Linked DNA regions of Homo sapiens: region 1 is linked to region 2. The links come from fine-mapping of genetic effects on gene expression. A gene starts in region 2. The other region holds a variant in brackets. All regions are shown on one strand. Distances are between the middles of the regions.

What was found.
Region 1: its variant is fine-mapped to the expression of MACROH2A2 in macrophages (Nedelec 2016, PIP 0.95). The same link has a PIP of 0.9 or more in monocytes after LPS.

What each region holds. Positions count from the first base shown.
Region 1 is chr10:69,950,920-69,956,290 of GRCh38, reverse strand. It overlaps COL13A1 (collagen type XIII alpha 1 chain), which reads right to left. Exons shown (of 41, transcript NM_001368882.1): 39 at 3,323-3,409. It overlaps LOC107984242 (a long non-coding RNA gene), which reads left to right. Exons shown (of 4, transcript XR_007062181.1): 4 at 1,313-1,396. Among named protein-coding and RNA genes, the nearest start is that of LINC02636, 56 kb to the left of the region's middle. The variant A/G (reference allele first, on the strand shown) is at 2,123.
Region 2 is chr10:70,050,671-70,056,036 of GRCh38, reverse strand. It overlaps MACROH2A2 (macroH2A.2 histone), which reads right to left and starts at 3,191. Exons shown (of 9, transcript NM_018649.3): 1 at 3,037-3,191.

The sequences.
Region 1 (5,371 bases), 100 kb after region 2:
TCAAGATGTTCGTGTTCTGCCCTTGGTGATAGAAACTTTCCTGAGTTTTCTTGGGCCCTCATATCCTCTCCTTGCTGGCATACCCTATGGGGAATCTAGAAATCTAGAGACCCAGTGGGGAAGGCGAGGCTGGGCCAAGGGCAAAGGTCTGGTTCTCAGCCCAAGTCTGCTAGACTGGCAGGGCAGACAAGGAGATGGACATGGGGCTTCAGGAGACCCGGAGCAAGTGCTCAGTCCTGAGGGAGCTTGTGGAATGAGAGTCCTCTGCTGCCCTGGTCTGACGTCATCCACCCACGCCAGGGGCTGAAACCTCTCATCACCTGGCATTCAGCAGAAATTGGTCCCAATATGGAGGGCTTAGGAAGTCTGGTTATCTTGTAGTAAAAGTCATGAGCAATAGCTACCCCTGCCCCTCAAGCCCATAATAACACAGAGGAGGAGGCAGAGTGAGAAACAAGGGGAAGACACTTCCCCAGTAAAATTAATAGAAAATTGACACATTGATATGGGATGTTATGGAAGAAAATGCCATTTTACATGGAGAGTCAAATCAGGGTGACCTTCATTTTCCCCTCTGGGTTGGGGAGGGGATTGCAGGGGGAGGAGGTGCATTCCACAGTTTCAGGGTGACCCTGTGCCCCTTCCCCAGCCTGCCACGGTGCGGTATGACACACGTCACATGGATGCCGGGAGGGAGAGGAGCCTCTGTGGGCCAGAGCGGCATTCCCATTGGTGTGTGGATGGTGGCAGGGGGATATGGAGGGCAGGGCAGGCAGAGAATGAAAAGTAATGTATGGTGAGGAACAGAGAGGCCAAGGCAGCTGCTGGCAGAACTAAAGGTGCCCAGATTGTGGGAGGGGATTGTGGCTGAGGGAAGACCTGGCCAGTGCTCAAGGGAGCCCCTGCGGGCCAGAGCGGCATTCCCATTGGTGCGTGGATGGTGGAAGTCCTGGTTGAGAAAGGTGGCTGTGCAGTCTGCAAGCGCAGGGTTTGGCAGGACCAGCAGGGACAGGAAGCATGCTACCCGCCTGCTTGCTCTGCACTCTCCTTTTGTTGCCTATGCTCCTCCTAAAAAGTCCCTACTGCCCTTCAAGGGGCTCTACGACCACCTTTCAGGGTCACACAGCATAATTTCTTGTATCTTTTTCTCTTTTGTTCAAAGAGAATTCCTGTGTGACCCCAGGGCGGGGATGTGAGACCCCAAATTCTCTTATTACTGGTATGATAAAATAGCTCTTGAACTCCAAACCTATTGGGGAAATTTGGGGAGAGCTGTAACCCCTTGAGCCTTGGAGTGAAGTGTTCCCTTCAGCTTCTTTTGCAGTAAGAGGATCAGCGTGGAGGCCTAGACTGTCCATGCCTAGAGAGGGACTGGGCAGGCGGGAATAAACTGCTACCACTTCGCCTGGGACGTGCTTGGAAGAGAGGTCCTTAGCTGTCTCCCTGCCTCCTCCTTAACTACATTCTTGACCTTTCCGTCTCTCCCAGACTCTTCAGTAAGAAGCCATCTGATCATGAAAGAAAGGGACGAGGAAGGGTCTGGTAATGTCTTTGGAGATTTAAGCAAGAAGGACAAACCCTTTAGGATCCGAAAACCTAATCCTGGACCATCCCCTAGTTCTGATGGTGTCACCTGGGCAGCGACCCACGATCCAACCTGGAAGAATAGGCAGGTGGCCCCTCCTCCAGCTCACTTCTAGAGCTTCTCAGTCTACTCTGTAATCATGCCCTTCTGTCCCCCAAATCATGTGATGGAGGAGCAGGGGATACAGGGCTGATCAGGCATCTCATTCACATGTTTCGCTAGGTGCTCAGCCAGTGATTCTGAACTAACTTCACTGCCTGAAGGAAAAGAAGTGAGTCATGGTTCTGAAAACCAGTCCAGAGAATCCACTTTCCTAGCTGGTATCTGGTGGCAGCTTTGTCTAGAATCAGCTTGGAGATGAGTATCAGAGGCAGCCAAAACCAACTTCAGGGTGGGAGAGCTGGCTGGCATCAAGTGGCTGTGCTTTAGAGGTAGCTGCAGCAGGAAGCCAGGAAACATCCCAGTAAACTTTGCATGCAAGAGGGTGGCATGACTGGGAGCCCCCAGAGTACTAGCCTAGGCGGGGTGACCCTTGGC[A/G]TTTACAGAATGAAGAAGTGGGAAGTGGAGCCTGGGGGGGATGGAGGAGGAGTGTGGAGGGTGGCTGGGGAGAAACCCAGTATGAATCACACACATGGGGAAGCCCAAATCGGCCATGCAGGCAAGCAAGGGCAATGCCATACCAATGGGCATGGGGCATCCAGTCCGTCCAGCCCTGGTAACCCCGGCTCCCCTTTCTCTCCTTTAAAACCTCGGTGTCCCTGTTCACAAAACCAACCACGATGATTATTCAGGTCAAGGCTGGCCAGCTCCAACCATGGAATAGAGAGGCCCAGTCCTACCCTGGCCAGGATGCAGGACCCTTGAGGCATCTACAAACAGGGGCTAAATCCCAGGTGATCCCCCATCTCCCAAATCCAGCTTTTGTGCTCTCTTTGTGCTCTGGAGAGTTCAGCTTTGCACACATACAACCTGCCCCCTCTCCGTTGATCCTCCTCTCTCTACAGACTCACTTAGTGTAAACACAGACAAACTTCAACTTTAGTGCATCATAATTTTTAGAACCTTCAAATGGATTCAAAGGCACTTGAGAAACCCAGCAGAAGTGCCTCATCATTAATTGCTGGCTCTTTTGAGAAGGCTTCCCATGGGGTGTCTGTCTGACTACCAGTTCTGGTCTGCAGCTTTAAAGGTTTCAGCTGGATGGCTGGTGAGTGTTGGGAGGCTGTGCATTAGAAGCCCCTCATCTGGCCTTGTTCTGCCCAGTTTTGAGCATCAGTGGCCCTGAGGAGACGCTAACTCTGGTGTCCTGCATCCTGATCAAGTGAGGATTCAGACAGCTTGAACTACTGGCCCACAGAGGTGGCCATGAAACGAAGAAGGCAAATCCGTGGCTCACAAATGCTACACTGGCTTCCAAAGCCATCCTGGAGCTAAGAGCTGAGGCCTTCCCTGAAAATCCCTTTCCTAGTGGTTTCCTCACTTCCACACATCGATTGCTCTGTATCTTCAAAGGAAAAGGATTCAAAGGCAAGGGATTTAGCCAGAATTACTTGCAGCTGTGGTTACAAAGCAAATCCAACAGCGGGCAGAATTTCACCAGTCAAATGAACAGAGAGATTTTGGTAGCATCCGTGTAGACATTTGGTTCTCATCTTAGTTTATTTGCCTTCTTTGTTTCCAACTTACAAACCTCAAGAACAAAAACCAGAACAATGCAAGTGATAAACAAAAACATACCAATGGGCAGGGGGCATCTAATCCAGGCGCTCCTTGGTCTCCCTTATCCCCTTTAGGCCCTCTAGAGCCTTTCTTCCCCCTCTCCCCCTGTAAATAATGGTTTAGTCCGAGAAAAAAACATCAAAACTTTAAGATCATTCATGTGTTAAGGTTGAAGACAGAAAAAGAAAAATAAAATTAAAAAGGGAAAAAGAGATGCTTTAAATTAGGATATTCTCCCCAGTAGGATTTGGAGTCAATACCCACCTCCTCCCCACCCCCCAGGAACCTGAGAATTTGGCTAAGGTGGGTGGGAGGGGGAGGGGAGGACAGGCAGAGGGCTCAGAGCTGCAGGTGCAGGGAACCACAGACTGAAGATTTTGGTGGCCGGTTTTGCTAATACTAAGCCCAGCGTGGGTCTGTGCTGAACACAGTGGCTAGGGACCAACTTCCTTCTCTTTGAGTCTGTTTTTGAAAGGCTTTGGGGTGAAAACTTTTTTTTTCCCCAATTAATGTTTATCCTTTTGACATTCTATTAGGAGGCAAGGTGATTTTGCTTGGAGCCCTGGGATGTGTGTGAACATAGCATGTATGAGTGTATGCATATATGTGCTTGTGCACATGTGTGTATATGTATGTATGAGTATACAGGTATGTGCTTGTGTATATGTGTGTGTGTGCCCACGTTTGAGTGTGTGTGGGTATGTGCTTGGGCACGTGAACACATGTGTGTGCCTTTATTATGCATGTGTGTCCATGTGCACATATGTATGTGTGTGTCCAGAGCTCACGGATGGCCCCTTGTGCTCAGCTGGCTTCTCCTGTTCTATCTGTGTCTCTGGTTCATCCTGGTCTGAAGTCAGACCGTTATTTGTATATGAATATGTTGGTTTAAGGAATTCATTTGTTTCTGAAAAGCTACAGTAAACATCATTTTTCTAAATTGAATCCTATATTGTATGTGTCAGAGTCTATTTAAAGAAGGGCTGTGGGGAATTCTTTTTAAAAGTGAAGCATCACTTCTGTAATGAATTTGCATTTGCATTTTTATATGTGTTTCCTAAAAAGGGGGCTCAGTATGCCCCTAGGGAGTCTTCCTGGGAGCTCCCCTCCTCTATGGAAGGGGGATTATCTAACGCTTGGGGACTTCAACTGTGTCACTCCAGGGTGACACTGAATGCTGGGCAGCGTATTAGAACAAAGGCTTGCAGTCAGAGTTGGTTCTGACAGTTAGCTGCGTGACTTTGTGAAGTTACTTCTTTGAGCCTTAGTTTCTTTACCTGTAAAATGAGTACAATAATACCTGCCTCAAAAATTTGTTGTGAGGCTGGGCATGGTGGCTCATGTCTGTAATCCCAGCATTTTGGGAGGCCAAGGCAGGAGGGTCACTTGAGGCCAGGAGTTCGAGGCCAGCCTGGACAATAAAGCAAGACCTCATTTTTGCAAAGAATAAAAAAATTAGTCGGGTGTGGTGGCATGTCCCTGTAGTCCTAGCTACTCAGGAGTTTGAGGCAGAAAGATCACTTGAGCCAAGGACAAGAGTTTGAGGCAGCAGTCAACCATGATTGCACCACTACACTTCAGCCTGGGCAACAAAGCAAGACCCTGTCTGAAAAAAAAATGTTGTGAGTTCTTTGTGCACATTAAATGCTTAATAATGGAATATAGTATGTGCACAGTAAACGATAGCTGCTTCATAATGATAATAATGGTCATTATTTCTTTTTAGCCAGTATAGGAGCCAAAGGTTGGGGTCAGAGGTTGTCATGTGCACTGTTCCTGCAGTGGAAGGCTGCAGGGTAGATGTTCATTAGAGGAAGGCAGAGGATAAGAATATTTTTGGCTGGGCACAGTGGCTCATGTCTGTAATCCCAGCACTTTGGGAGGCGGAGGCGGGCGGATCACTGGAGGTCAGGAGTTCGAGACCAGCCTGGCCAACATGGCAAAACCCCATCTCTACTAAAAATACAAAAATTAGCCTGGTGTGGTGGCACTAGCCTGTAATCCTAGCTACTCGGGAGGCTGAGGCAGGAGAATCGCTTGAACCCAGGAGGCAGAGGTTGCAGTGAG
Region 2 (5,366 bases):
TGTACTGTTCTGCAATTTGCTTTTTTCATTAATAGTACATCTTGGTGATCTTTTTCTGTCTCAGTATGTATAGATCTGCTTCATTCTTTTGAACTGCTGCCTAATATTCCAGAAGACAGATGCACCAGAGTTTATTTAGCCATTCCCTGTTGATGGCTGTTAGGCTGTTTTCTACTTCAGAATGACCAAAATTGCAATGAACATCCTTATACATGCTGAGCTCACGGATGCCTGCTTCTTTGGGTGACATACTGAGAAATGGAATGGTGAGTCACAGAATGTGTGCATTATTAATTTTATAGTGCCAAACTGCTCTTCCAATTGGTTATATCAATTTACACACCAGTCAGCAGTATATGAAAGTACCTGTTTTCCCACTAGCTTGCCAAAATCACTTTTTACCTTGTTTTACCTGCATGTATATTTTATCTCCTAGGCTTGGGGTTGTAAGCTTTATGAGAGAAGGGCCCAATGACTTCCTTATATTTCATTTCTTTCCCTATCTAGAGGTGTTTAAGAATTGGTGTATACTCAGGAGGCTGAGATGGGAGGACCCCTTGAACCCAGGATTTCGAGACCAGTCTGAGCAATATAGCGAGACCCCCATCTCAAAACAACAACAAAACAAACAACAAAAGACTTGGTGCTCAATAAGTGTTTGTTGAATGATCTCTAACCACAAGTTCTTTGTTAATCTCTGTGCAATATACTTTCCATTTACCAAGACTGCATCTAACTTGGAGGTTATTTCTTAAGGTTGAAAAACATTCTTAAGAAAGTTGGCTGAATTTTTGCACATCCCTCCCCGGTAACAAGTTACAGATACCTTTCATTTAAAGTTGCCTAAGACAGGACTCACCTCCTGTTCTGCTGGCAGGAGGCAGTGAAAACAGATGTGGTTGTCTCAGACAATAGCTAGCAGGGTGTCCCACCCACTGGGAAATGGCAGACCAGAGGCGCTTTAAAAATCCTGGGAACCAGACAGAAGATGGAATGGTGAGGGAGTAGGGTCAGAATCACAGGGACACTCCGGATTCAAGGAGGTAAATTCTTTTACGCAGTTTTGATATAGAGGAAACCACTAATAATGTGTAAAGTCTGACAATTAATGGATCCAGGTGAGGTGTAACTGTGGTAGGATAGGAAAAACCAGAGAAGAGGAGAACTGGGCATGTTTTAAAAGGAAATTTGGCTACAGGAAAGAGGGGTTATGAAGATGTGAATTATGCGACTCAAGATAAACTTTTCCGCCGGGCAGTGCCTCTATTTATTTATATGTAATTTTAGGCTAAAACAATTCTAAAAATCACCAGTATGTTTCCAAATCTTGGAGCTCTTAACATTTAGTTTGAAAATAAAAAGTGTGTTAAAACGGATTGAGAATTATGTGTAGCTTAGTTTGTGGTTCAAAACAACACACACGAAGACACGTTCTCGCTCTTAATAATGTTTTCTTTTTCTCTCACCTATTGAACCGTTTCAGTAGCAACTGTGCAGCCCAGTGAGGTGACAATTGGATTTCAAAACAAACACAAATGAGCAAAGTGAGGAAACCATTTGCCGCGGTGGACTAATGGCCCCTAGGGGATCCTGGGGTCTGTGGGGCTTAGAACTGGGCCCTTGTTTTGAATTCCTCTGAGGTGGACAGAAGCTGGAAGGACACCTCAGTTCCAGCGTGGCTGTGACAGGGTAACTGCCCTTAAAATCAGGGCAGCGGAGCCACGGTTCCCATCGCGTCCCCTCAAACACTCAGGGCCCCGCACTTTGGTTTCTCAGCCCATTTCTTCTCGCGCCTTTCATCCCTTCACTCATCCAGGGCCGTTGCCAAAAAACCCTGGCAAGGACCAGGCCTCAGTCAGGCCCACGGTGGTCCACTGCACGCGACGGGAAACTCCTGGAGGAAGCTCGTTTGGCCCTTGGGGAACCAATGCCCCTTTGGCCATTGTTGTAAGGAACAAAGAGGGCAAGAACTGAGGGCGCCCCCCCAAGGAAAGGCGGGGGAGGACACCCACGGGCGATCCGGGGGGCTGGCCGGGCTGGGGCTGAGGTGCGCCGGGGCTGGAGGCTGGGAGCCGGGGGAGGCAGGGCTGGTCCCCAACCGCCGCGCCCCGCGAGCGATACGCACGGCGTCCGGCGCCCGGCAGAGCCCTTTCCTGCGCCGCAGCCAGTTTACTTTTATTCCCTTTTTCGATATTTTTATTATTATTATTTTTTCCCGCGCAAAGCGGGAGCCAGACTGCCCAGGCGAGCCACGGCCGGGCCGCCATTTCCCGGTGAAAGCGCAGCGCGCGTCGGCACCGGGCGCCCCGGAAAGGGAACCGAAGGGGAGTGCCCGGCCTCGCGCCCTCTTCCGCGCCGGCCCCGGGGCGCACGCCCGCCCGCGGCGCCCGGGTGTCCGCGCAGCAACCCCCAGCCCTCGCCCCGCCACCCGGCGTCCCCGACCTGACCTTCCCCGGCGCGGCCCGCCCCCGGACTCGGGTCCCTAACCTCCGCCCGGCTGCTCCGCGCCCCCTCCATTGTCAGCCTGGAGCCGCCGGCGCCCTGCCCGGGCACCTTCAGAGGCCCCCGAGCGGCCCTCCCCGGGCTCCCTCGGGCCCTGCGCAGCCCCCCACCCATCGCCCCGTGCCCATCGGCGGCCGGGCGCCTCCGTCCTCCCGCTCCTGCGCCCGAAACTCCGCATTCCCAGGAGACCTCCGCTTCCTCCGGGTCCAGCCTCGCCTGGGGCCCGCTGCTGAACCTCGCATCCCTCCTCCTTCCCCTCTCAGTACCCTCGACGCCCCCGGCCCCTCGCTGGCCGCAGGAATTTGACCACTTCTTTAGCAGCCCCCCCTTTATCGCCCAAGGAAGCAAGTTGGGCAGCTGGATTTAAGAATTTGTTTTTGCAGAGGGTGGGTCGGCTATCGAGGGTGCGCCCGCAGGGGCTCGGGGGAGAGGCAGAGGTGGTTCTCTCCGGCCCCTGCACTGCCCCGGCGGCGCGTTTTGTTTCCAGACCCCGGAGCACCCTAAACAATAATGCCATCGCCATGGCGGGCTCACCTGGTGCTGCGCCGCCTGCTCCCGGCGCCCGGTGCCCTCTGCGCGCCCCTCCACGGGCGCAGGTTTGGCCCACGCGGCGCCGGTGCCGGGCAGGACTCTTTGCCTTTCTTTGGGTTCTATCTGTGCGTGTCAATGGCGGCAAGCGGCAGTTCTCTGGGCCGCGGATAGTAGCGGGGGGAGGAGGAGGAGGGAGAAGGGATTGCTCCTTCTCCACATAACCACCTCTAGGAGGAGTTGCTCAGCCTCATCCCCCGCCAGCCCAGGCTCCGCGACGGGTCCGGGGCTTTCGGTGGGGCTTGATGAGCTATTGTCCTTCAGGAGTATTAATGGTGAAACCGCGCGGCCTCCGCGTACTTGGCCGATCTGCGAGACGAGCCGAGGGCCACTCGCTAACATGAGGCTTTCCCCAGAACTGGGCACAAACGCGCTATGGTCGCGATCCAGTCTCCTGTTAGCTGGATCCACCTTTGGTGGGAGAAGGTGGCGTGGGCGTTCATCTGGCAGCTCTGGGGAGAGTCTTCGAAGGGGAAAGCGAAAAATGCCACCTTCTATATTTTTGTGTCCTTAAATAATAACAAGTACATTAACGTTTGTGTCCACCACTGGGAAGAGTGCATAGGGCGGCCACAGCCACGAGAGCTGAGAATTTATATCCGTGCCTGTAGGCTTTTTAGAAATTAAGACCGATTTAGAATCCAGCGTTGCATAATATTTGGAGAGGCAGATGTATGTTTTGGTGGGTGAGACTGTGTGTATGGGCATAATTTTTAATTGGGTTGCTTTACAAGGTGTTAATTTGCAATATCCCAACGGGTATTTAGATGAGCGCGAGGCTATTGTCTTCAGGACCAGTTTTTATTAGTTACTAGAAAATGCATCTTTATGGGGGTGTGGTGGACACTGTCGGGTGTGATAATGGGGATTAGCAGTTGCTGTGTTCCTAGTGGAAGCCAGTCTCGGCTTTGTATTGTGAGTTGTTGGCCAGGGCTCCATGGCTGGAGGGGAGTCAAAAGAATGTGTTTATTTCAGTGGGAAATACTAACTTGCTGTGGACCATCCAGGTTTCCTCTGATTTCTCCTACAGTCAAAGGACTGTGAGAGGCAACATTTTGATCCCTTCCAAAAAGAGAAACCGGTGCAAACAGAATTCTCCAGCCTTGGCCAAATGGCTGATTTTTAAAGCTGTTACATTTGGTAATATTGTGTATATTTGCTACTACAAACTTGTAACTATTTAGGCAGTGGGGACTTTGGAGTGACTGAAAGCCTCCCAGTGCCTGAGTGGGAAGAACTCATGCCTACCACCCTCTGCGTCTCTACTAGTTAGTTAATCATGGCTATTGCTGGCGTTTATAGATAGCGGGTTAGGTTTAGAACATGTGCATTTTAAAGTGTATTTGCTGAGAAATCAGCCATGTTTCTCTCTGACTTCCTCCAAATCACGCATATATCATCAACATATGCATAAGCCTCTATTTCAGTCTCCTATGGCTTCTCAAACTCCCCTGGACTCAACAGTCTCTGTTTCTTGGGGCTTCCTTTACTCTTTTCCTAAGCCTTTCACGCCCTCTGTGTATGACCTCACTGTTCTTTGTCTTGGAAGGTATTTTCCAGGTCAGATATCCAGTCAGGATAAAGTCTTCTTTCCCCAAGATGTATATTTAAAGGGTTTCAAATGATCCCCTGGGGCATCCCATAATGATGTCCTTTCCCATTCCTAAAGAAAGGGTCTCTCTTCTTATACCTTCAGGTGTCCATTCTTCACCAGAAATAACCATCAAGCCAACATTCAAGAGAGTTCAGGAGTTTTCTATGAGTGCTTGAAAAATACTCATACTCTGTCATCCAGTCAGCCAGGCTGACTGAAATATAGTTGAATAATTCATCAGTAGATATTAGATTCACATTCTCCTTGTAATTTCCCAATAAAAGTGGCATATGTGGTCATTTTTATGTGAATTTTATATAACAGTTCATTCTAGCATTTTGTTATGTGCTATCCTGAGAGAGGCTGGATCTAGTAAATTTACTGGTTAGGATTCTCCCATTTCATACTGGTTGGTTTCTTCAGACAGATGATGCTGTCACAACTCAGAAAATCAAGGAAGAGGTCAGCTTCAAAATACTCTGATTCTTAGGATAAAAGGGTTCTTAGAGTTCACCTAGTGGAAACCTTTGCTATAGGAAGAAATCTGGTATTTGGAAGGGTGAAATGACTCAGCCATGGCCTCGCAGGACATTAGTGGGAGATCCTCCAATGCATGTCCAGATACCCAGTCAATGCAGTTTCCGCCAATTCCAAACTTTTCAGGATGTATAGGGGACAAATA